Homo sapiens: one gene and its partners. The protein of the gene in region 5 purifies or fractionates together with the protein of the main gene of each other region. This does not show direct contact. Each region holds a gene or a part of one and is shown on either strand. Other genes may lie near its edges.

What was found.
Region 1: the proteins of TMED2 (region 5) and USP22 purify together in Homo sapiens (affinity purification with mass spectrometry; 2 studies listed by BioGRID and IntAct, with this or other methods). This does not show direct contact.
Region 2: the proteins of TMED2 (region 5) and GOLGB1 purify together in Homo sapiens (co-immunoprecipitation; 3 studies listed by BioGRID and IntAct, with this or other methods). This does not show direct contact.
Region 3: the proteins of TMED2 (region 5) and ATP9A purify together in Homo sapiens (co-immunoprecipitation; 3 studies listed by BioGRID and IntAct, with this or other methods). This does not show direct contact.
Region 4: the proteins of TMED2 (region 5) and FGFRL1 purify together in Homo sapiens (affinity purification with mass spectrometry; 2 studies listed by BioGRID and IntAct, with this or other methods). This does not show direct contact.
Region 6: the proteins of TMED2 (region 5) and SURF4 purify together in Homo sapiens (co-immunoprecipitation; 2 studies listed by BioGRID and IntAct, with this or other methods). This does not show direct contact.
Region 7: the proteins of TMED2 (region 5) and PA2G4 purify together in Homo sapiens (affinity purification with mass spectrometry; 2 studies listed by BioGRID and IntAct, with this or other methods). This does not show direct contact.

The regions. Positions count from the first base shown.
Region 1 is NC_000017.11:21,033,012-21,036,511, reverse strand, and holds part of USP22 (ubiquitin carboxyl-terminal hydrolase 22), read left to right. Parts: intron 1-3,500. UniProt on the Homo sapiens protein: Deubiquitinase that plays a role in several cellular processes including transcriptional regulation, cell cycle progression or innate immunity.
Region 2 is NC_000003.12:121,701,242-121,704,741, forward strand, and holds part of GOLGB1 (golgin subfamily B member 1), read right to left. Parts: intron 1,355-3,500; coding exon 1,240-1,354; intron 1-1,239. UniProt on the Homo sapiens protein: May participate in forming intercisternal cross-bridges of the Golgi complex.
Region 3 is NC_000020.11:51,765,591-51,769,693, forward strand, and holds the start of ATP9A (probable phospholipid-transporting ATPase IIA), read right to left. Parts: upstream 2,801-4,103; 5' UTR 2,780-2,800; coding exon 2,712-2,779; intron 1-2,711. UniProt on the Homo sapiens protein: Plays a role in regulating membrane trafficking of cargo proteins, namely endosome to plasma membrane recycling, probably acting through RAB5 and RAB11 activation. Also involved in endosome to trans-Golgi network retrograde transport.
Region 4 is NC_000004.12:1,010,312-1,014,425, reverse strand, and holds the start of FGFRL1 (fibroblast growth factor receptor-like 1 precursor), read right to left. Parts: upstream 2,801-4,114; 5' UTR 2,472-2,800; intron 2,455-2,471; exon of another isoform or gene 2,439-2,454; intron 2,286-2,438; exon of another isoform or gene 2,149-2,285; intron 1,963-2,148; exon of another isoform or gene 1,957-1,962; coding exon of another isoform or gene 1,941-1,956; coding exon 1,862-1,940; intron 1-1,861. UniProt on the Homo sapiens protein: Has a negative effect on cell proliferation.
Region 5 is NC_000012.12:123,587,552-123,591,051, reverse strand, and holds part of TMED2 (transmembrane emp24 domain-containing protein 2 isoform 1 precursor), read right to left. Parts: intron 3,442-3,500; coding exon of another isoform or gene 3,421-3,441; intron 711-3,420; coding exon 603-710; intron 1-602. UniProt on the Homo sapiens protein: Involved in vesicular protein trafficking. Mainly functions in the early secretory pathway but also in post-Golgi membranes.
Region 6 is NC_000009.12:133,363,513-133,366,060, forward strand, and holds part of SURF4 (surfeit locus protein 4), read right to left. Parts: intron 2,517-2,548; coding exon 2,473-2,516; intron 1,515-2,472; coding exon 1,328-1,514; intron 248-1,327; coding exon 1-247. UniProt on the Homo sapiens protein: Endoplasmic reticulum cargo receptor that mediates the export of lipoproteins by recruiting cargos into COPII vesicles to facilitate their secretion.
Region 7 is NC_000012.12:56,107,559-56,110,984, reverse strand, and holds part of PA2G4 (proliferation-associated protein 2G4), read right to left. Parts: coding exon 3,372-3,426; intron 1,756-3,371; coding exon 1,692-1,755; intron 1,129-1,691; coding exon 1,050-1,128; intron 587-1,049; coding exon 508-586; intron 427-507; coding exon 293-426; intron 22-292; coding exon 1-21. UniProt on the Homo sapiens protein: May play a role in a ERBB3-regulated signal transduction pathway. Seems be involved in growth regulation. Acts a corepressor of the androgen receptor (AR) and is regulated by the ERBB3 ligand neuregulin-1/heregulin (HRG).

The DNA of each region.
Region 1 (3,500 bases), on a different chromosome or scaffold from region 5:
AGTGCTCAGTTACAGTTCCTTTTGCTTTTAGTCTTACACTCCCTCCTCATTTCCACATTACTTAGGTACTTCCCTCCCCACCCCTCTTGGCGGAGTTGTGTCCTATATGTGTAATACAATTGGTTTCTTCTGCCTCAGCCTGCATTCCATAGGGCCTCATCAGTTATTTTTAAAATCGCATATATTAAGGTTTGCTCTTTGTGCTTTAAAGCTCAGTGGATTTTGACAGAGGCATCCACAACTACAGTACTGTACAGAACAGTTGCACTGCCCCAAGAAATCCCTGTGCTTCACCTTCTAACTCTCCACAACCACTGGTCTCGTCTCCATCTCGGAGGTTTTTCCCTTTCCAGAATGTCATATCATTGGGTTCATACAGTCTGTAGCCTTTTCATACTGGCTTCTTTTGTCTAGCAATATCCATTGTATCCATTGAGTGGATTGAAAGTTCATTCCTTTTTTTTTTTTTTTTTTTTTTTTTGAGACGGAGTCTTGCTCTGTCGCCCAGGCTGGAGTGCAGTGGTGCGATCTCGGCTCACTGCAAGCTCCGCCTCCTGGGTTCACGCCATTCTCTTGCCTCAGCCTCCCGAGTAACTGGGACTACAGGCGCCTGCCACCACGCCCAGCTAATTTTTTTGTATTTTTAGTAGAGACTGGGTTTCACTGTGTTAGCCAGGATGGTCTCGATCTCCTGACCTTGTGATCTGTCTGCCTCAGCCTCCCGAAGTGCTGGGATTACAGGCGTGAGCCACCGCGCCCAGCCGAAAGTTCATTCCTTTTTCTTTTAATGGTATTTATCATGTGGCTATACTGGTAAGTCGTTTAAGTTTCTTAATCTGTAGGTTCTCTCTTCATTCCTTTCTTACAGTTTTTTGCTTCTACTTTATCTGTTGAAAAACTTGGGCCTTGTGACTTGTTGACTTCCCTATAGTCTGGATTTTGCTGTTTGCATACTCAACAGTGGAAGTTCAAAGTGTTGTGGTTTGTTTTTTTTTTGTCCTATTTCCTACAAATTGGTAGCAGGGTCTCCTATTAAGGCTTTTCCTGTATTTAGCACACAGACTTGATCACCTTGGTATTAAGCGGATGGAAGCTTAGGTAGGAAGTAAACTCAGTTTTCAAGGATTAAAATGACCCGCCTAATGGATATGTGAGTCTTTTTCTTGCCTCTTGTTTTATGTTGGCCAGTACCTGTAGCAGAGGGTGCTGAAGAGTAGAAATTGAGATAGAATTGAGTGTGAGTTTTATTATTATATGTTAGCAGCTCTGGTAAGAAACTCAGAGAATTAAGTGAGAATGGTAGATTAAAATGAGGCTTTAGGATAATGTGATTGCTCCCCATACATGTGTAATTGACAGTTGTGTGAGGTGAGCTCAATTTAAAGGAAGACTAGCCTAAGCTGGTCAGTACCAGGAGGATTTTGCCCCAGTTTGCTTCCGTCCAAGTGTGTGTCCCTCAGCACAGCATCTCTTGGGCTTCCTCATTTCCTGTTTATGATAATAGAGTACTCACCCCCATCCTTGAGGGATACATTCCAAGACCTCCGGTAGTTGTCTGAAACCACAGATAATACTGAACCCCATTTGTATTACGTGCAAACTTTTTTCCTTCATAATTTCATGGATAGATTTGTTCTTACTGTAGATCTTAGCAACCTTGTTATTTGATATTGTTTTCTTATTAAGAATTTTTACCTTTTCACGTAAAAGAAGCCCTTTATGGCTTTTCTTTGGCATATCCAAATTGCAGCATCAGTACTCTTGAGCTTTGGGGCCATATTAAGCCAAATAAAAGTGGCTTGTGTTCACTTTTATCCGTGATCACATCCGCAACAGTTGATGTGATCAGCAAGACAGCTACCAAGTGACTTAACGGGCAGGTGGCCTAGATGGCACGGAGAAGCTGGACAAAGGGATGGTCATGGGACAGAGCGGGATGTCACTCAGTTTCATCATGTTTCTCAGAACGGCGGGCAGTTTAAAGCTTATGAATTGTTTATTTCTGGCATTTCCATGTTACTATTTTCAGACTGAGGTTGACTGTGGGTAACTGAAACCACAGCAAGCGGAACTGTAGGTAAGGGAGGACTGCTGTGATATTTTATATTTCATACGTAATTTCCTTCTGGTTTTGGTAGTTGGGATACACTTTTTAGGTAGGCCTGGCAAGTAAGTCTCCTGACCTGTCCAAGGACATCACCGGCAACTGCTGGGTCCCAGCCTTGAAATGAGGTCAGTCTGAGGTCTTGCCTTTGCTGAATGAAATTACCCCTTCTGTAAATTGAAAGGTCTGGAGTCGCTGTACCCTTAGATTGATTTTGGCTCCGAGATTGAGGGGCCTGAGTCTGGAAGCTGAGGTTTTTGAGGTTGGGGAACTTAATTTGAGAAGATTATCTAATTTTGGCAAAGTCTTTAGCTTTTTAGTGCCGTATTTTTTTTTTCATATAAAGGATAGAATATTTAGGCCGGGCACGGTGGCTCATGCCTGTAATCCCAGCACTTTGGGAGGCTGAGGTGGGTGGATCACTTGAGGTCAGTAGTTCAAGACCATCCTGGCCAACATGGTGAAACCTCATCTGTACTAAAATACAAAAAGTTAGCCGAGCATGGTGGCACGCGCCCGTAGTCCCAGATACTCGGGAGGCTGAGGCAGGGGAATCACTTGAACCCGGGAGGCGGAGGTTGCAGTTAGCGGAGATTACGCCACTGCACTCCAGCCTGGTGACAGAGCAAGACTCCTTCTCAAAAAAAAAAAAAATTATACCTGTCCCTTCACTTATGTCAGTGTTTGAGTCCTTGAAAAAGTCACTGAAGAGAATGCACAAGAATTAAACTTACCTTCCTAAGATGCTCAGGTTTTAGACCAGTAGGAAGTCATGGGTAATGTGTGAAAAGTGCACTAGCTCTTAAGGTGGTGTGTCATGTTTGCACACTTTTAAAAGCTGGACTCAAAATTCAGTGTACTGTTGAGTCATCCCATAGGGTAAGTCTGGTTGACTACAAGGGCTCTGCCCCTCTTGCTCCTCCGCATCCTTCTTGGGGTGGGAGGTAGTGTGAGTGGGGAGATAAGAGGACAGGATATTCAGAGGAATATTCTTAATATCGGGACCAAATTAATGAATTTGGCAGGGTGTTTCTGTACTGCATAAGATCAACAACAATTAAATAATTGATCCTCTTCTAATTCCTGTCACATACAAATCCTAGTTATGTTTCAGGATTTGCTTGCAGTCTACTGAATCTACTTGAATTAATTTATAGGAGAAAAGGATTTAATTCAGAAATCATTGCAAGGGCTATGGAGTAGTAGATTCTAGGTTGAATTTCTAGGAAAACCCGCCAGCCTGGGGAATCCTGCCTCTGCAGGAGCCACCACACCAGAAAGTGGTGTGCTGGGCTGCTTAAACAGTGCCACCCCTCCACGGTCCATGTCAGCCTGTGGATGCCCCCACTGGGCCTCTCTCCTTAGCTTACTCACCAACCGCATCGTCTGCAAATGT
Region 2 (3,500 bases), on a different chromosome or scaffold from region 5:
TACCTCCAAACCATGTGAAGCCACATGGATAGGATACAGACTGTTTGCAAAACTGCAAAATAAGCATCATGGATAAGGTCTCAAAGAAGTGCTCTGAATGGGTTAAATAATGAGCTGAATTTGTGGTGTTCTTTACTTATTAGAAATAGTGGGAATCGTCTAATACAAGTGCATAAGCTTCCATTTAGATCTAAGTGGAAAACTGTAAAATGGTTAAGTTAGAAATACTGGCTCTAGAGTTTAATAAAAGTTTTACAACCTTTACTTGCTATTCATTCTCACTCCTAGATGATAAAGTGTAGTAGTCAGTTAAAGATGAATTAGATCAATAAAGCATTAACGACACGCTACTAAATCCATAAAGTCTACATGAAGCATATGATAAGTGGAAGGAGACACGTCTTCATTCTCACTAACTGTTCACACACAATCCAATAGGATAAAATGCTAAGTTCAGTTCAATCCAACAAAACTTTATTCAGTAGCCATTATTTGCCAGGTGGTATACTAGTTTTGGGTAAAGCAAAGATGGAAAAAAAAATGGCCCCTGCCCTTGAAGAGCTTATATTTAAACTTTGAAGAGCTTATAATATAGTAAAAAAGACAAACATATAAACAGATCATTTTAATACAATGTTAAAAGTATACAAGGATGTTATGGAAGCACAAAAAAATCATTTAACCCAACTTTTGGGGACCAATACCAAATTCCTGAAAAAGATAATATGCTAGTCGAGGCCTGAAAGATGAGTAACAATCATCCAGACTAAAGGAAAGGAGCAGGATTCTAAGCAGGGTACAGCACGAGCATAAACCACTCACTCACAACATAGTTTCTACCTTTAAACCTTTATACTGATCTCTGTTACCTCATCCCACAAATTTATTACCAGAATGTCCTTTCTTTCTTCATTTTACCTATTTTAAAAATCATCTTATTAAGGTCCTGTTCAAGCCATACTTCCTATAGGATACGATGACCATTCCAAAATGATTATGAGTTATAAAGAAATCCTGCAGCATGTATAGTCCATATTGCAAAATGTTATACTTATGTAAACACTGATACTATGCTCTAATTGTTTAATGTGTATTATCTTTGATAGTTACCAGCTCTATTATCTAAATCTTTATTATCACGGAATCAGAGAATTCTACATGTTATACATAATTAGTGATAAAAGTAGAGGCACTTGTGGGATAAGAAGACAGAGAATTATGGTTTTCTTTTATACATACCATTCTCAGCTTTCAGCTCCTCCAGCTCTATAGAACTAAGGAGCAAGGCTCCCTTTTCATTCTCTAGTTCTACCACTCTCTTCTGCAAAGAAGCAATATTCTCCTCAGTGACTGCCTAAATTGTAGAAAGACAACAAATTAATGATTCTCCAGCAGAAAATTCTCACACTAACGCCCAGATAGCCTCCAGCATTTTTGTCTTCTAGAAGTTCTCCAGCCATGAAAATACTTTAAAAATAACATCTACTTATCTGCCTAGGTAATCTTTGAAGAAAAGTGTTTTATCTAAAGATTTAGAAAAAGAAATAAAATATTTCACACAAATATCAAGTTCATTGGCTTTTAAATTTAAGATTGAAGCCTGGATTACAAAGATAGAAATCCCAAGTCTATAGCATAAGAAAGAACATTTTCAGGTTCACAAACAAATAGTATTACAAGATTAGATTAATGTCACCAAGTAACATGGTCTCTCTCCTGAAGGAGAATGAACATGAAGAGAGGTTCCACAAAGAGGAATAGAGGCAAAGGAATATGTACCTCTTAAGAAAGGAAGAAGATTTATAAAATTGTTTTTTGTTTTCCAAGTATAATAAAAATTCCCTTGGCTTAATTTATACATCCAGAATTTTTGGTTTTCCTAAGGATAGGCATATATCTAATTATGTCACATCTTTAGTTTTATGTCTTTGTATATATTTTTTATTCTCCATGGATATTATTCTATAAAATTTTCATACAATTGTAGAATTTTTAAGCCATGAGGGTCTTTACAGCATATTTGACCCCGAAATCTTCATTCAATGTTTAAAATAAATAGCATGGGATGAATTTAGGGTTTTTATGGCTTTTATCTTGAGGGAAGTTCCCAGTTTGCAGTATGCAGGGCAAGTAAAATTCCAATAGAATAGCCACAGATATTTCTGGCTTGAAGAATGAGAAGAGTTTGGGACAAACATAGCTGCCAGGATGTGAGGAGGGAGATCAGAGAGAAGAAAAAGAGTTAGGAAGGAGGAGCCCTGAATTCTGTGTATAAACTTAGCTGAAATTTCTGACTGAACAATGGCACAATGTATTTGTTGGACTGACTTAAAGCAGCCCAGCTAAGGCAAAAATAACTGAACTGAGTTTTGATGCCTCTCTATCATAGGCCAGAGTTTGGGGTTTGAGTCCAACTTACTGTCTGATAAAAAGTAATTGAAATTTTAGAAATAACAAAATAAAATCTTGAGAACAAAACACGACATCCAGAATTCAAAACAAAACCATTCACACATAAAGAAATAGGAAAGAGTGACCCATTCTCAAGGAAAAAAAATATAATCAACAGATTCTAGCCATAAAATGATGCAGATTTTGTAAGTAGCAAACAAGAATTTTAATAAAGAAGCTATTATATCTATGCTTAGGACATAAATGAATATGCTCATAATGAATGAGAAGAAAGGAAATCTTAGTAAAACAAACAAAAAAAAATAATGAACCAGTTTGAAATTCCAGAACTAATAAACATAATATCTGAAATGAAAATTTCAATGTGATAGGCTTGACAGTAGAATATAGACGACAGAAGAAAGTCTTGGTGAATTGAGGATGATAAATCAACTGAAATTATCCAATCTGAAGACAGAAGAATAAAAAAAATTGAAAAAAAAAATGAATACAACCTCAGGGACATGTGGGACAATATTAAAAGGTTCAATATACGTGTAATTGGAGTACCAGAAGAGACGAGGGACAGAATGGGAAGAAAAAATATTTTAAGAAATGGCCAAAAATTTCTCAAACATAACGTTATATACGTAAGAAACTCAACAAAAGCAAGCAAGAAAATGACAAAGAAAACTATAACTAAGTACTTCATAGACAAGGATAAAAGGAAAGTCTTAAAATTTCCATGGAAAAATGATACTTTACATACAGAGAAACAATAATTCGAATGACTACTGACCAATTGTTAGGGAAAAAATATAGGCCAGAAGAGGGAAACACCTTCTTTAAAGTACTGAAAGAAAGGCTGGACACAGTGGCTCACGCCTATAATCCCAGCAGTTTGGGAGGGCGAGGCAGGTGGATCATCTGAGGTTGGGAGTTCAAGACCAGCTTGACCAACATGGAGAAACTCCGTCTCTACTAAAATACAAAATTAGCCAGGCGTGGTGACTCACGCCTGTAATCCCAGCTACTCAGGAGGCTGAGGCAGGAGAATTGCTTGAACCCAGGAGGCACAGGTTGCGGTGAGCCAAGACTGTGCTATTGCA
Region 3 (4,103 bases), on a different chromosome or scaffold from region 5:
GCAGTGAGCCGAGATCGTGCCAGCCTTGGCAACAAGAGTGAAGCTACATCTCAAAAAAAAAAAACAGAATTAGATTAGTTCCAGGCCAAGCACGGTGGCTCACGTCTGTAATCCCAGCACTTTCGGAGGCCAAGGCAGGTGGATCACCTGAGGTCAGGAGTTCAAGACCAGCCTGGCCAACATGGTGAAACAACTCTCTCTACTAAAAATACAAAGATTAGCCGGGAGTGGTAGTGGGCACCTGTAATCCCAGCTACTTGGGAAGCTGAGGCAGAAGAATCGCTTGAACCCAGGAGGCAGAGGTTGCAGTGGGCCAAGACCAAGGCATTGCACTCCAGGCAACAAGAGTGAAACTACATCGTCTCAAAAAAAAAGAAAGATTAGTTCCAAAGCTGGTAAATTCTAAAGGGGCTGTGATGCTCCATTCCAACGCAACCTAGAAAACTTACTTTTAAATAAAATTATCTGCACCACTCCCTCTGGCTCTCCATATGAACGGCTCATGTTTCTATCACGCTAATGATCACTTTTGAACAATATTTGCATTTTTCTTTCATGTACTGACTCAAAAGTTCTCAACTCTGACTGCATGTTAAAATCATCAGGGGAGCTTATTAAAATATATAGATAGAAACCCAGGTCCCACCCTAAATTCTTATTTCAAAGGTCTAGAATGAATCAGAAAAGGCTAGTTAAGTTTCCCTGGTGATTGCAATGAACAGCCAGGGTCAGGACACCCACACCTGTTGGGCAGGTCTTCTTTAATTCATCCTTGCATCCCCATCAGCTGGAGTGGCTCCTGCACATAGTAGGCGTCTCATAATTGCTCATGGCACAAATTAATAACCACTGGATTTTAGACTCCACTGATCATATTAATTCATCACAGTATTTACGGAGGATGTACGATGTACCAGGCACTGTTCCAGGCATAGTGTTCAAGTCAATTGTCATCATTAAAACGAAGGAGGCCGGGCGCGGTGACTCACGCCTGTAATCCCAGCACTTTGGAAGGCCGAGGTGGGTGGATCACGAGGTCAGGAGTTCAAGACAAGCCTGGCCAAGATGGTGAAACCCCCGTCTCTACTAAAAATACAAAAACTAGTCAGGCGTGGTGTCGGGCGCCTGTAATCCCAGCTACTCGGGAGGTTGAGGCAGAGAATTGCTTGAACCCGGGAGGCGGAGGTTGCAGTGAGCCGAGATCTCGCCACAGCACTCCAGCGTGGGCAACAGAGGGAGACTCCGTCTCAATAATAATAATAATACTAATAATAATAAACGCAAAACAGAGAAGGGAGGAGTGAGGGAACTATCTTTGGGTCAGACAATCCGGAGTTCAATCTCCATTTTGCAGTCTTCCCTATAGCCCTTAACCTCCGTAACCTCCAGTTTCCTCCTCTGGGTAATATCAGTGAGGCCTCTTCTTCGGAGGATTCAGGAAGCCAGGGACAAAGACCCCACAAAATGGCCGCCAGCACCATTCTTTTTTTTTTTTTTTTTAATTCCACTGACACCTGGTGAAGCCACCCTTATGGTTCACTCCACCCGCCGCGTCTCCTGTTCCGAGCAACTGACGCTGCAATAAGCGGCCGCCACCGGGAAATGCCCAGAGAGGACCAGACGCCCGAGGAAGGGCGGAGCAGAGCGGCCGCAGGCCCCGCCCAACACCGCGCTCAGCCTCCCGCGGGCTCCAGCCTCACCTGCGCGGCCTGTGGAGCTGCACATCTCCAGGCCCCGCCCCCCAGAACTCTGATTGGCGGGTCTAGGCGGGGGCCGGGAAATCTGCATTTGCACCAGCGCCCACCCCCGTCCTTCCCACCCCCGCCCCTCACGCCCAGGTAAGTCTATGGCAGGCGATACGAGAGCCCCGCAAACCTCAACGCGTCACGCTGCCATCCTCCGAACAGGAAGACGGCGAGGCGCAAAATACCAACCCGTCCCCTCTTCCCAAATGCAGAAAAACCCTTGCCTGTTCCGCGCCTAAGCTGCCCTCGGGGTCTCCTACTGCGGGAAGGGCACAGCAGGTGGCAGCCCCTGTCCCAGCCGTGGGATTCCTTCCCCGAAATTGTGGGGGGAGAACACAAGGGGTAGTGTCACCAAGCGGCCAGTAGGAGACCCTCCCACCCTCCTGCGACTGCTGGTTCGGGTCCACCCCGGGCGGAGGGGGAAGGGGCCACCGGAGCGCAGGTGGTCTCGGCGCAGCCTCCTGGGGCTGGGACCCAGGGGCGCTGATGGGGTACCCCGAGGCGTAGGCCGCGCCCCCCTAAAAGCTGAGCATATCTGGGCTCCCGAGTAATGCTCCAAGCGCAGAGCTCGGTGTGACACTGACCAAATTGTTACCTCAGATATTAATTACGGACAGATATTAATTACGGAACAATAAAACGGTGAGAAAGCACGGCTGATCCGAATTCCGCGAGTGTGTAAACAGCACTGGGGCGGGCCCGGCTTCTCGGGGTTTCTAAAGGAAGGTGGGCAAGGAGGCCCAGGCAACCGGGCGCTCGAACCCCAAAGGGCCGGCATCAGGCTAGGTGCCGCCCGGGGCTGAAGCGCAGGGACCCCCTCCCCACCTCCCCGCCTCCCCAGCCCTGCCCCAGGCTCATGGCGCCGGGCGCGGCGCGCGGCCAACCTGTCAGGCCCGGCCAGGCTGGCCCGAGCGCCGGGCTCCGGGAGGCGCGGACAAAGGAAAACACGGGCCCAGGCCCACTCACCCGGCGCGGGGCCTGCTGTCCATCCGCTTCTTCTGGCGCACCGGCTGCAGCGGGATGTTGTCCGTCATGTCGGCGGCGCCGCCCGCCTTGGCCGCCGCGCCCCCCGCGCCGCCTGGGCCGCCGCCCGGTCCGGCCTCCGCGCCGCCGCCCGCCGGCGCCGCGCCGCCCCGGGGGAGGAGGCGGCGGCAGCGGGCGGGCCGGGCCCGCAGCGAGGGGGCGAGCTCGCGAGCGCCGGGCCACGCGCGGAGCGCCCGCGCGGCCCGACCGACGGACACGGGCGCACCATGGGCCCGAGCTCCGCGCTGCGCCCGCTCGCTCCGCGCCGCGCCGCGCCTGCCACGGGGGGCGGCCGGGCCGTGTCCGCGCCGCCGCGACCGCTGCAGTGTCCCCGCCCCCGGCCCGCGCCCGCGCCCCCCACGCGCGCCCACCCGGCCACGCGCCCCCCGCCCACGCCCGCCGTGCGCGCACCCTGCCACCGCACCCCCCGCAAAATCCCACATTCACAATCACATCCCAGCCCTATACACGCGCGCTGTGACACTCATCCCCACCAATATCTGACATGCACAATCACACGGGCACCCGGCCACGCTCACCCCATCAGTCAGTCATTCTCACTCACTCTTGCACCAACGTGCATATTCACGCCCAGGCCCTACACACACACCTGCCACTGCTCACTGCCTGCAACATCTAACATTCACAATCACATGTGAGTCCTGCACACACACATAACACTCTCACCCTCCTGTTGGTCACCATCATCCATGCACCCAGTTTCTCAAGCCTCACACCCATGTGCCTGCAGAAATCACAGTCACACAGGGACCCTCAGCTTATCAGACTCCTTCACCCTCTGACCTTCACCATCCTCACCCTCATTCTCTATCTGGATTCTGGGAACTCACCATGACACACACGCACCTGCCTCTTTCATCCAAACACCCTTCAATAGTCTGAACACCCTCATTCTCACACCAGCCACTTTCTTGGGCTTGCACATGGGCCCCACTCTCAGGCCTCAGACAGTCACCCTGCATTACCTGTCACTGTGATTCACGGTCTCACACACACACCTATCTCCACCGCAGCCCACATCCACACTCACTTCCACACCCTCCCACACAGTGTCTGGGACCCATGAACTTTTCAAAGGCCTGATAAAGTTATGAGAGCAGGAAAAAAAAAACAGAGGGAAGGAACAAAGTGAGGGAGTTTAAAAATCAATATGTAACTAAAGAGCCTGAAATTGTAATAATACCATATAAACTAATCTAAAGCTGACTTTTACATAGTTACATCTAATGACTGATCATGTTGGACGCCGTTTCTTTTTTTTCTTTTTGAAACAGAATCTCCCTCTGTCGCCCAGGCTGGAGTGCAGTGGCAAAA
Region 4 (4,114 bases), on a different chromosome or scaffold from region 5:
AGGTGGCACTTCTCAGAAAGCCCTGAAACGACTTCCTTCAGAGTTATTTGTGAAAGACATTTCATGCAGAACCTCTCAAGTTCCCACTGTGAGAAATAAAATGGAAAGGGAGAAAGCCAATTCCTATATTTTTTCAAATTGGAAAAAAAAAAAGCAGTTTAAGACAAATCCACCAAGATTGTGAAAGTTTGGGAAAAGAGGAACTTTTAAAATATGATCTGAGTGTAGCGATGTGCCGATTCCAGAACTTATGACCCAGCGGGAAATGGCTTTTCAAAAATAACCCAAGCCCTCTGCATGCTGGTCCTTGGCCTAACGAAGGTGCACAGTGGGCTGTTCAGAGCAGGAGAAACACACTTGGATGGACCTCGCGCCCTAGTCCACGCTAGGAAAATCAGCACAGTCCGGAAGAACCTCCTCCCCACCTCCACCCAAACCACAGAGGCCCCTGCCCTTGGAAAGCAGCTTGATCCCAGCTCCCCAGTGCCGCCAGGGCCTTTGCCACGCAAAGCCAGGGCTGGATATCCTCAGCCCCAAGGCCGCAGCTGAGGAGGACGAAGGCGAAGGGGGTGGCCGCTGGGGCGTCTCCACGAAGAGGCGGGCTCTGCCGCCCACTGCCATGGCTGACCGTGGCCATCCACCAGTCAGCTTCAGCCCCAGCCAGGAAACATGGCAGGACAGAGGCCTCCAGAGCCTCCCTGGCCGAGTGGCCAGAGGACAGGCAGGTGTAGGGATTGGGGAGGCCAAACAGATCAAAGAGAATGCAAGTCCAGGCCGCTGGCCATGGTAGGGGCTCGCCCAGTATGGCCTGAGTGCCCACACAGCCCAGGACGCTGCCGGGCCCTCAGAGCAGCCGCTCAGCCAGGCCCATGTGGGCAGGCGGGGGGTAGGGGGGGGTGCTGTGGCATAAGGCCCACCTGGTCACCGCCCGCCACCCAGCACCCGAACGTGCCCATATAAGGCCAGGTTGGATGCGGCGCGCTTGCTGGGCGGCAGGGGAGGGGTGCGAAGCCTCAGGACTGGTGGACACAGCGCGGACAATCCTGAGTGGTCAACACGCCCAAAGGGCCGGCCTGGCCACAGGTCCCGCCTAGCCATGGGGGCAGCCAGCGCTGTGCCCGGATCCTGGAACATGGCGGGCATGAGTCTGCGGGCACACGTCACCCATCGGCTCCGGATGTCCTTGCTGGGGCTGGGTCCCAGGGCATGGCTGCCACTTAGATGTCGGTGCCATGAGCACGTACCAGGCCAGCACAGCGTGTGCCCAGAGGCACGCAGTCCTGGGGTGCGTCACGGCTCTGGGGACTTGTCCACACAACCGCCCGGCACTGCCTGCCTAGAGCTGGGCAGGCCCAGGGCACACGGCTAGGTCGGCTGGGGGACTGGGGGTCTGGGGGTCAGTTTCAGTCCCAGACACCAAGTATATTACCAATATCTCCCATAGCCCATCCTGCCTTCCGTGGGGGTCTCTGCAGGTTCCCAGAGTCCTTATCGGGTCCACTGTGGCCACAAACCGCCCACTCCCCAAGAATCCACAGGTGATTAGCTGCCCTGGACTGCAGGTACGAGTATGAAAGTGTTTGCAAGACCAGGAGCATGTCCTGGGGAGCCAGGACTAAAGCCCACCTGGCCAGCAAGCACGCATGAGGGGAACCCCTCCAGCCAGCTAGGGGAGCCCCGGTGGGTGCTGTGGACAGCCCATGGGTGAGGGGGCCCTGGAAGGAAGGGGGCCTGGCGAGCGGGGCGGCAGGGGCGGGGCATGGCGCGTGCCAGGCGGGCACTGTGGCAGGGTTCAGGGCCGGGCGGGAAGGGGGCGGCGCTGGCGGAGGCCAGGCTGGCCGGGCTGGGCGCCAGAACTCACCTCGGGCGGCGGCGGCCGGCGGGAAGGCCCCCAGCAGCAGCGGCGGCAGCAGGAGCAGCAACAGGGGGCTCGGCGTCATCTCGGCCTGTCCGGACCTGGGGACATTGGGGGCGCCGTCACTAACACGTGGAACTGGGAGATACCGCCCTCCCCGGTCCCGGGCCGCGGGGATCAGGGGTCTGGCCGCCCTCCCCACAGGCCCTCCCCGCCCGCGCTCCAGGCGGAGGAAGCCGCAGCGGGGAGAAGCTGTGGGTATCAAAGGCAGACAAAGGGTTTACACTAATTACCGGGCTCCCCCGCCGCCCCCCCTCTCCAAACACCGTCTGGATTCCTGGCGCTTGTAACTCCGGCCCTGCCCGCAGGACACACAACACTCAGCGCCCCGCAGATAATCGCCTGCGCCATTAGCGGACAAATTTGCGCTGGGGGGGGCCCACGTGGGGCGCGGGGGCGGGGGCGGGGCAGGCCGGGGGCCCGCAGGAGCGGCGGCGGCGCGCATGACCCGTGCCCAGCTGGGGCCCCGAACCCGCCCCTCCCCGCCCCCGCCCCGGACCCCCGCCCTCCCCCGTGTGCCCACCTGGGGTCGCGGCCGCGCGCGCGGGGGGCTCACCTCGGCGGGGGGCTCAGCGGGCGGGCGGCGGGGTCAGGGCCGGGCCCGCGGCGTGCGCTCCGCGGTCATCGCCGCCCCGGGCGCCGCATCCCGCCGCCCCGCGCCCCCGGGCCCGGTCTCGGGGCGGGGCGGCGCTACCTGGGCGCGGGCGGCTCGGGCCGGGTCGGGGTCCGGGCTCGGGCGCTCGGGGCGCGGGGTCCCGGACCGGGCAGGCGGCGGGGGCGAGTCCGCGGGGCCGGGGGCCGGGGCCGGGATCCCGGGGCGGCGGGGCGAGGGGCCCGGGGCGCCGCGCCGCGAGGCGTCCTTCCCTGCGGGGCTTTGTCAACTCTCCCGGAGCGAGCGCCGAGCCCGGACCCCCGACCCGCCCCCGGCACAACTTCCGGCCAATCCGCGCGCGTCAGCCCTCCCCCGTGCCCCGCCCCGCCGCCAAACTTTTCCCCAATCCGCGCGCGCACACCGCCCCCGCCCCGCCGGGCTCCCGGCCTTAACCCTCGCGGTGCGGACGTCCCCGCGGGCGGGCGGCTTCCCCGGGTCCGGCCCCGCCCCCGCCCCCGCCCCGCCCCAACCCGAGCCTCGCCGCGCCCCCGGCCCCGCCCGCGCGCCCTTGGTCCCCGCAGGCTCCTAGGACCGGCCAGGAGCCGCCGCGCCCTCCCCATACCTGCGCCCGCGCGCGCCCGGGTCGGGTCCTCAACTCTCGAGACACCTCCGCGACCCCCAGAGCAGGCTCCGGCCCTGCCCGCGGCAGTCTGACCTCTGCGCAGCCCCGGGCCGGGCCCAGACCGCTCTCTGGTTGCTCAGAAGGGGGCGGACTGGACGGCCGCGGGAGCTTCGAGGCTTCCAGGTCTGCGCCCCGGGGGGTCTTCGGGAGCAGAAGGGAGAAGCAGGGCCTCGCCCAGCCGGAGCTGCTGGGGACGGGGTAGGGGGGGACGGCCGCGGCGATGCAGGCAGGGGTCCTCCCCGGGGCGTTCGGGTTACCTGGTGCCTTTGGCCAAAGGTATGTTCCCACCTGAGGCCTCCCAGCCTCTCACCTGCTAGTGACGGGAATGACAAGAACATTAATCATCGTAATAGACGTCAACATGCGATTCAATCTCCGCTACCGGGCAGGCGGCCCCAGGAGCAGATGAAGAAACGGAGGCGTGGAGAAGACAGCGCCCAGCTCTTCGCGGCTCTTCCTCCACACGCCTCGCCTGCCGTCCCTGCCCAGGGCCCAGCACGCAGGGCTCCCAGGCCGCACCTCCAGCCGCCCCATGGCCTCCCCTCATCCTGCCTCCCAGTCTTGCAACACAAACCTCACGGCCTGCCCACATCCCGCCTCACACCCTCGACTCCGCGGAGTCACCATCCCAGCACCTCCTCCATCCCCCAGAGCAGCCTCTCTTTCTGGGGCCTGAAGCCCCCTCTTCCAGGAAGTCCTCCCAGGAAAGGCTGAAACTGGAGAGGCCTGGCAGCCGGTGTCCCCAGGCCGAGGAGAGCTAGGCGGGGCGTGGGGGGCGCCAGCTGTCAGGGTGTGGGACTCCTCAAGGCCCGAACTACCCGGCCGTCCCAAGGTGCTGGTTCCCAGCCCAGCGTCCTCCACCCCAAATCCCGCGTCTGGGCCAGCGTGGGCGTCGCGAGGGCGGATGGAGGTGCGCTCGGACGGC
Region 5 (3,500 bases):
AACAATTAGCTTATTCCTTAGCTCACCATACATTTTTAAAAACCCAAACTTTTTTTTTTTTTTTTCCCTGAGACAGAGTCTAGCTCCATTGCCCAGGCTGGAGTGCAGTGGCCCAATCTCAGCTCACTGCAACCTCTGCCTCCCGGTTCAAGTGATTCTCATGCCTCAGCCTCCCGAGTAGCTGGGACTATAGGTGCACGCCACCACACCCAGCTAATTTTTTTATTTTTTGTAGAGACGAGGTTTCACCATGTTGGCCAGGCTGGTCTCGAACTCCCAACCTCAGGTGATCCGCCTGCCTCAGCCTCCCAAAGTGCTGGGATTACAGGCGTGAGCCACCATGCCCGGCCAGAAAACTAAACTCTTAAAAACTTGTACTAAATCTTAATAGCATTTTCTAGTTTACAATGAATGTCCCAATAATAAACTACAAAGCTCCACACATGTGTATGCTCAAAAAATATCTCGTGTAGGTACACTTTTAAAGTCAATGCTTTCACATAAAATTTGCAAAGTTTCCAAATGAGGAAAATACGAGCAAGCTGTTGAGTAAAACAACCTTCACCATCAGACACTGCTGCAAAGTGACGGCATTCACTTACTGGCTCTGTGTATTCTCTCCCGGACTTCCATGTATTCCTGTTCGTGCTTTACAGCTGTCATCGCCACTGCTAGCTCATTGATCATTTCTTCTAGCTTGTTCTGGTGAGCTATAGAAGGATTTGAAAACAAAACACATTTGTCAATGTCTTTTTTTTTTTTTTTTTGAGACAGAGTCTCGCTCTGTTGCCCAGGCTGGAGTGCAGTGGTGCTCAATCTCAGCTCACTGCAACCTCTGCCTCCCAGGCTGAAGCGATTCTCCTGCCTCAGCCTCCAGAGTAGCTGGGATTACAGGCACACGCTGCCACACCCAGCTAATTTTTGTATTTTTAGTAGAGACGGGGTTTCACCATGTTGGTCAGGCTGGTCTTGAACTCCTGACCTCAGGTGATCCACCTGCTTGAGCCTCCCAAAATGCTGGAATTACATGCGTGAGCCACTGCACCCAGCCATCTTTTTTTTTTTTCAAGACAGGATCTCACTCTATCACCCAGGCTCAAGTACAGTGGTGCAATTATAGCTCACTGTAACCTAAAATTCCTGGGCTCAAGCAATCCCCTGCCTCAGCCTCCTGAGGGGTGCGTCACTATGCCTGACTACCATTTTATTTTTATTTTTTAGAGACGGGGTCTCGCTATGTTGCCTAGGCTGGGGCAATCTCTTTTTGAAAAACACTTATAAAATAAATATAAAATATAAAATAATATAAAATAACTTTTCAAAATCCTCAGAGAAGGCCTGCAAAAGAAGCTACTTTTGAAATGGTTCAAACATCAATTTGGACTACTGATATGAATCATGTCAATTTAATTCTCAAAGCATTTTTAAAAGTCCCTTCCCAGTAGAGAAACCTCTTTCAGGGTAGGAAACATACTATATAATGCTTACTAAGGAAAGGAAAACAACCCCAGGAAATTTCTTCTAATGGAATGTTGTTATGTGAAGTTCACTATACTGACTATTAACTACAGCAAAAGTAGTAAAACACTGAGGAGAGGGGACTAAGAGCACAAAATAAATACCTGTATTTTTAAAATGTAATCCTACAAATAAAGTCTAAGAGTCATGTAACTCTAATATTAATTAAGAAGCAGGAGCAGCACCAAAACAGACTCTTAATCTCTATAAAGCTGAGCAGAGAAAAACATTAAAACGCTCTTAGGAAAATCCACACCAACTCAAACATTCTTCTTTGACAAAGTAATAGTTTCACTATAGTGGGGAACAGCAGGCAATGTAAGTAGAGAGACAAGCCCTTAGCGGCACAAGTTTTCAACCAGGCATCCCTCTTGAACCAAAAATACACACAAGGCACTGTTCTGAAGAGTAAGCATGTGCTTCTAGGTAGTGCCACGTTATGAGAATGAACAGACAGGCAGGAGAGAAACAGCACCAGGAAACCTTCCTGGGAAAGGGGGATCTCTTCATCCCTGCCCAAGACTGGGTCTCTTCTGGGATTCCAGATTCTCGCAGACAACCCCAAGTTTCTTAGGAGAAACCAAGGGCCTCTACCATTGAAGGCAGTTGAATTGGAATGTCAAACCGTCCCTCACTCGAAATTTCCCTTTGGAAGCCCCATGCACCACATGGAACTGATAGAGCAGGGTTTCTCAGCAGTGGCATTGTCTCCATTTTGGACCAAATGCTTTTCTATGCTGTGGGGCGCTATCTGATGCACTATAGGGTATTTAGCAGCCTCCATGGCCTCCAGTCCTAGATGCCTGTAGCACCTACCCCCAGTCTTCCGAATAAAAAATACCTCCAGATATTGCCAAATATCCCCTGGGCATCCTCACTTGAGAACCACTGCTTTAGAGGAAGGCTTGATTTGACAGCTGCCATTCACTGACATTAACAAGCAAAAGCAAGAATTTTGGATATATGTTAAAAAATTATCTAAGAAGTTCAATATTCACATTCATCAACCAACATTTTCAAACTATTTAAGTAGGATCAAACTCCAGAAAATAAACCAAAAAAGCCTTTCAGAACTCCTCATTCTCCCTGAAAATTAGTCAAGTCCTACCCTATAAGTGGCCCTGAAAAATGAGTGCAGGAATTACTAAGTAGTAGGACTCTCTAAATTCTATAGATTTCAAAATCCAACCAAACAACTCAGCTTCTTTATGATGTTAACACTCTACTGATACTGAATATCTGGGAGAAATGTTACCACGCTAATAGTATACTATGAAATGTGTGAAACAATGACTAGCTTCAAAAACTCTGGCATGCACTGTGGGGAAAAAAAAAACAAAAAAAAACACCACCAAATGTGCTGGCTCCCGGTAAGCAATTTATCCAGAACCACCAAGAACCAATCAGGGTTTATTACTGGTAACCTGAGCAATGAACACTCTAACTGCAACATATGGCTAAAAGAACTCTTGTCTTCATATCAACATATGGCTCCTAGAACTGCATTTCATATCCAACTAAGCTTCAGGTTAAGAAGTCTACAAAATGACTTTCTACAAAGTCAAAGGCACCATTTGCTATGAGCTATGTTTAATTGGGACTTCTGTCCCCTTATCATTGAATTTCCACTCTTTAGCATTCATCTTAAAGAACAAAGATGTTACTACTAAAATGTCAACTGTGTTTTCAGTGCTATTAGTTTAAAATAACCTAACCTATACCTCCTGTCAACGAAATAAAAAACCACCAAAAAAAATATCAATCCAATTAGTTGTAGGGGTTTTTTAAGAGAAAAAAACACTCTCATGCCAACAAACTGAGGTTAGAAAAAAGAAAGCAGAAATTAGACATTAGCAAACAAAAAGATGCAAAAAGGATGCTGTCAAAAAGCAATCCACATACCATCCCAGGTATCTCCACCACCTAAAGAAAAGTTAAGATATCTTAACACAAAAAGAACCAACAAAAAGTTTAGCTAAACT
Region 6 (2,548 bases), on a different chromosome or scaffold from region 5:
CATCCATGGAGACACCCCCAGGGCCCAGGGCCACCACCAGGAGCAAGCCCCCAATCACCGACATGGTCTGGAAGAAGTCGTATTTCAGGAAGTCATGCATGGGCTTGTAGACTGGAATGGTCCAGAAGGCGTTGAAATATACGTTGATGGCAAAGAGCCACACAACAAGAGTCAAAGCAGCCAGCTTGGTTTTAAAACCAATGGCCACTAAAATCATCAGAGCTGTGCCCACGATGTTCTGGACAATCTGCATAGGTTGAAACGTAAGAAATTCAAAATAAATGTGAGGAAAAGAGATGCTTTATAAACAAAAGTTCCAGCTGCTGCACGTCATGAAGTCTCTATCCATCAGGCTGATGTAGCTACTGCTGAGACGGCTGCTGGTGCAAGTAGGGAGATAAAAGCCAAAGGGAGGCAGGAGGCAATAAAGCACCAGCTTTGAAATGTGGAAGGTTTGGGGAAGACTGAAGTTCCCAACTAGTAACAGGCTGTGATTTACCAAGATGAATCTCTAATCCATAACTAAATTCCCAAGTGCTTCTTGGCCCACCCAGCCATCCAGGCCAGAAACATCCTCTCTCCTCTCTCCATGGCGCCAGGAGCTCTTCCTGGACACTACCCGGCCAGGGCTCTCAGTCAGCTCCGGAGGTGTGCTCTGGAAGCTCCTGGAGGCCTGCCCCTGACACCTGACACACAGGAATTACTTGAGAAAGATACGAACAGTGAGGAAAGAAAGAAGAGTAAGGGGAGCCCGGGTGGAGAGCCTTGGCCAACCAAGGGCCAAGCACACTCCACCAAGGTCAGAGGTTCTGGCCTTCATTTGCTGGAAAGAAGGCTTGACACACAAGAGATTGACGATGTTTTGGTCTGTTTTAATGGGATCAAAAAGTTTGCTCCGCCGAGCACGGTGGCTCACGCCTGTAATCCCAGCAATTTGGGAGGCTGAGACAGGCAGATCACGAGGGGTCAGGAGATCGAGACCATCCTGGCTAACACGGTGAAACCCTGTCTCTACTAAAAATACAAAAAATTAGCCAGGCGTGTTGGCAGGCGCCTGTAGTCCCAGCTGCTCGGGAGGCTGAGGCAGGAGAATGGCGTGAACCCGGGAGGCGGAACTTGCGGTGAGCCGAGATCACGCACTGCACTCCAGCCTGGGGGACAGAGCGAGACTCCGTCTCAAAAAAAAAAAAAAAAAAGTTTGCTCCATTTCAGCAGCTCCCCCAGGCTGTGGTTAATACCCAACCAGGGAGGGGTGAGCAGGGAGGGGGTGGGGGAGGGACAGCATTCACAGGAAACCAGACCGGTTCAGGCAAGTAGGAATACTTACAGAAAAGAAGCTGGCGTCAAAGTGAAGGAGGGTCATGAACATCAGAACCAGCAAGACCCTGCCTCCGAGCTGCATGTACTGTTTGGGGGAGCTCTCACGCATGGTGGGGACGCCCGCAAACATGCTCTTCCCTTCAGAACGGGATTCTGCTAGGAGCAGCAACAGGCCTCCTCCCAGGGCCAGGTTCCTGAGGAACAGATATGTGGGCTGGAAGCTAAGCCTCACCAGGATCTGGCCTGTCTGTGAGACCAGGTGCAGGGAGACCTTGCTGCCAGTATAAGAAGGCCCTTACTTCCCTTTCTCCAAACCCAGTGATCTGCCAAGCAGGACCAGGCAGGCATGCGCACAGGACCTCAGACTCGAGTTACACCCATGTAAAACCTTACATAGCTCAGGAGACAGAGGTATCTTTACAACTCGACAGTGACAGGCTACCTGAACACACACACAACCGAGTCCTAGTCACAGCTTCAGTGTTGACCAGCTGGGTCCCCGTGGTCAGGTCTGTCCTCCACTCAGACCCGGAGTCCCCACACCCGTGAAATAAGGGTCAGAAGAGACGGCTTCAGTCTCTACTATTCTAGGGGCTCTGCAACATCCTCTTCAGAACCTGTTTCTAAGAGGCACAATTTAGACAGGGGGGTCCAATCTTTTGGCTTCCCTGGGCTACCCTGGAAGAACTGTCTTGGCCACACATAAAATACACTAATGCTAATGATAGGTGATGAGCTAAAAAATAAAACTTAAAAATCACAAAAAAAACTCTCAATGTTTTAAGAAAGTTTTTGAGTTTGTGTTGGGCCATGTTCACCCCGTGGACCACAGGCTGGACAAGCTTGGTTTAGACCCAGAGAAGTCTACTCAAACCAATAGTTAACTGAGTTTAGAAATACAGATTGAGTATCCCTAACCTGAAATGCTTAGGACCCAAAGTGTTTCAGATTTTGGTATATTTGCATTATATACTTATTGGCTGAGCATCCCAAATCTGAAAATCCAAAACCTGAAATGCTCCAATGAGCACTTCCTTTGAGCGTCATGTTGGTGCCCAAGATTTTTCCCATTTTGGAGCATTTCAGACTTTGGATTTGCAATGCTCAACCTGTAGAAGGAGCGTATACTAAAACCAACCAGAATGCACATACCTCATCAAAAACTTCAAGTCCCATAAAATGCTGTAGGCAATCGTCTGAGGGGAAAGAAGAGAGAGATACTTGAGTC
Region 7 (3,426 bases), about 67 Mb from region 5:
TTCTTCTCATCTTCAAATGCTCTGGCAGGGAAGATGATATTCAGAGGTATCTTTAACTCCCCATCAAGTCTTACCATTTTGCTCATATTTTAAAATAGCTCCTACCCTCAGGCAGAAATCATGCTTAGGATTGCTCTTTTACATTACCTTCAATGAGAAGGAGATGGGGAGAGAGAGGGAGGGAGTGAGCACATGCACGCTACAAGTCTAGGCAGGAAGGGAGAGGAAAAAGTGTTCCTGGGTGTATGGTCTGTGAGTCAGACTGGTTCCAAGTACTATCATTGCTTAGTACCTTAAAGTAAACGGCATGGCATCAAAACGCCTTTCCACCTCACTGAAGAAGGCACGTGAAGTTTTCATTTTCAGTCCATACTGTTTAGAGGGGTCTCGTTTGTAAATAGTGGTTCTCTGTCCTGCATCCTTGGCCTGAAAGAGTAATTTAAGTAACATTTGGTCTGGTGAACACTCTCAGTCACCCCTCTTTGCCAACTCTGGTACTCTCCTCACCTTGCCCTCTCCTGAGCTGACGAGAACATCCACAGCATATACTTCATGTACCTCAAATTCAGCTTTTTCATGGTCCTTCCTAAAAGGAATAGAGAGAAAGGAATTTTTTTTTTTTTTTGACACAGAGTCTCATTCTGTCACCCAGGCTGGAGTGCAGTGGCACAATCTCAGCTCACTGCAACCTCCACCTCCCGGGTCCAAGCAACTCTCCTGCCTCAGCCTCCCAAGTAGCTGGGACTATAGGCACAAACCACCAGGCCTGGCTCATTTTTGTAGTTTTTAGTAGAGACAGGGTTTCGCCATGTTGGTTAGGCTGGTTCTGAACTCGTGACCTCAGGTGATCCACCCGCCTCAGCCTCCCAAAGTGCTGGGATTACAGGCGTGAGCCACCGCGCCCGGCCTAGAGAAAGGGAATATTAAGAGCAACAGGTCACTCCTGAAAACATGGAGTAGAGGGCGGACAAGATTCAGTTGGGAGTATAGAAAAAAACCTGATGACTAGTCTTGTGTGGTAGAAGGTAATAAGTAGGGTTGGCACCTACTTCTGCTGGTCTGTGGGATTCTGGATAATGGTTTTTTCTCCATCGATGACATGCTGCTTCAACTGGTGTGACAGCATACCTGTAGATAGTACACAACCTATGGAACAAGCTATCCAGTATCCCAAAAGGTTTCCAAATCCACCCACTTCAGTAGTTTGAAGTGGTAGGCAGTGAGACAACTACCTGGTTATGGAAACACAGGGCTCTGAGATTTCTGGCTTAGACTGGGTTATAGCCAGGATAGATCTTCAAGGGAGCAAAAGCCTCAATTCTGCAAAGCCACTCATTCTTTTTTTTTTTTTTTTTGAGATGGAGGAGATGGAGTTTCGCTCTTATTGCCCAGACTGGAGTGCAGTGGCGCAATCTTGGCTCACTGCAACCTCCTCCTCCCGGGTTCAAGCGATTATCTCGCCTTAGCCTCCCAAGTAGCTGGGATTACAGGCACCCACCACCACGCCCAGCTAATTTTTATATTTTTAGTAGAGACGGGGTTTCACCATGTTGGCCAGGCTAGTCTCAAACTCCTGACCTCAGGTGATCCGCCCACCTCAGCCTCCCAAAGTTCTGGGATTACAGGCGTGAGCCACCGCACCTGGCAAAGCCACTCATTCTTAGACCCTCAACCCTGTTATCTGTTCTCACCTTCTATTGGCGTGCAGTTAAATGAGTGGGCAACTTTGTTCCAGGCTTCTGTCACTTGTGTGTTCTAGAAGTACAACATCAAATGAAAGGTGAGATATCAGGAGCTAATAAGTTCTCTACAATGAGAATAAGAAGCATAAAAGAACTGAGCGTTTTTTTTTTTTTTTTTGAGATGGAGTCTGGCTTTGTCACCAGGCTGGAGTGCAGTGGCGTGATCTTGGCTCACTGCAATCTCTGCCTCCCGGGTTCAAGCTATTCTCCTGCCTCAGCCTCCTGAGTAGCTGGGATTACAGGCACGCAACACCACGCCCAGCTAATTTTTGTATTTTTAGAAGAGACGGGGTTTCACCATGTTGGCCAGGATGGTCTCGATCTCCTGACCTCGTGATCTGCCCACCTCAGCCTCCCAAAGTGCTGGGATTACAGGCATGAGCCATTGCACCTGGCAGAACTGAGCGTTCTAATATCCTCCATCAAGCCCCAATGATTGTCATTCACTGGTTTTTCATTTCATAGCTTGATTATCCCTACAATCTAAAAATACTTTATACAGATGCTCCCCAACTTGCAATGGGGTTACATCTCCAAAAAACTCATAAGTTGAAAATATCACTAAGTCAAAAATGCATTTAATACCCCTAACCTACCTAACATCACAGCCTAGCCTATGTTAAATGTGCTCAGAGCACTTAAAAAACATTATCCTACAGTTGGGCAGAATTATCTAACACATGCCTATTTTATATTAGTGTTGAATATCTCATGTAATTTACTAAATACTATATGGAAAATGAAAAACAGAATGGTTGTATGGGTACTCAAAGTATAGCTTCTACTGAATGTAGCATCAAGCTGAGGACCAGCTGTAACTGCATATCATTTTACCCAGTGCTTTCACAAAGATGGTCTAACTCAATAAATTTTGCATGTGAACAGGGCAGATGTATATCCCAATCTAGAAGACAAGGAAACTGAGTCTCAGGTTAAATGATTTGCCCCAGGTTAAATGAGTGTTAAGTGAAAGAACTTGGTCATAAACCTGGGTTTTCTTTTTTCTTTTTGTAGACGGGTCTCGCTATGTTTCCCAAGCTGGTCTCAAATGCCTGGGTTCAAGCAATCCTCCCACCTTGGCCTCCCAAAGTGCTGGGATTACAGGCATGTGCCACCACATGCCTATAATATTAAGTCCAGTGTTTATCCTTTTTTACCTGGCATTCTAATCTGTTTTGTGGGGACAGCAAATGCTTATTTTTCCTTTTTCTTTTGTGAGACAGGGTTTCATTGTTGCCCAGGCTGGAGTGCAGTGGCATGATCATAGCTCAGCACAGCCTCAATCTCCCAGGCTCAGGTGATTCTCCCACCTCAGCCTCCCTGGAAGCTGGGAATACAGGCACATGTTACCACGCCCAGCTAATTTTTGTATTTTTTGTAGAAATGGGGTTTCACCATGTTTCCCAGGCTGGTCTTGAACTCCCAGCCTCAAGCTATCCTCCTACCTTGGCCCCCCAAAGTGATGGGATTACAGATGTGAGTCACTGTGCCCAGCTAAATATAGCTAATTTTAAAAAGCTGTTTTATAAGGGGTCTGTAGGGGAGGTTGGTAGTTTCATATAGAGTAGCTATAGGTGCCTAATGCATCTTTGGTTCAAACGAGCTTTGGAATTGGATAAAATAGCTTACCTGATTTCCAGGTTTGACCAGGCGTAGGGCAGCTTCAGCACAAAGGTGAGCTGCC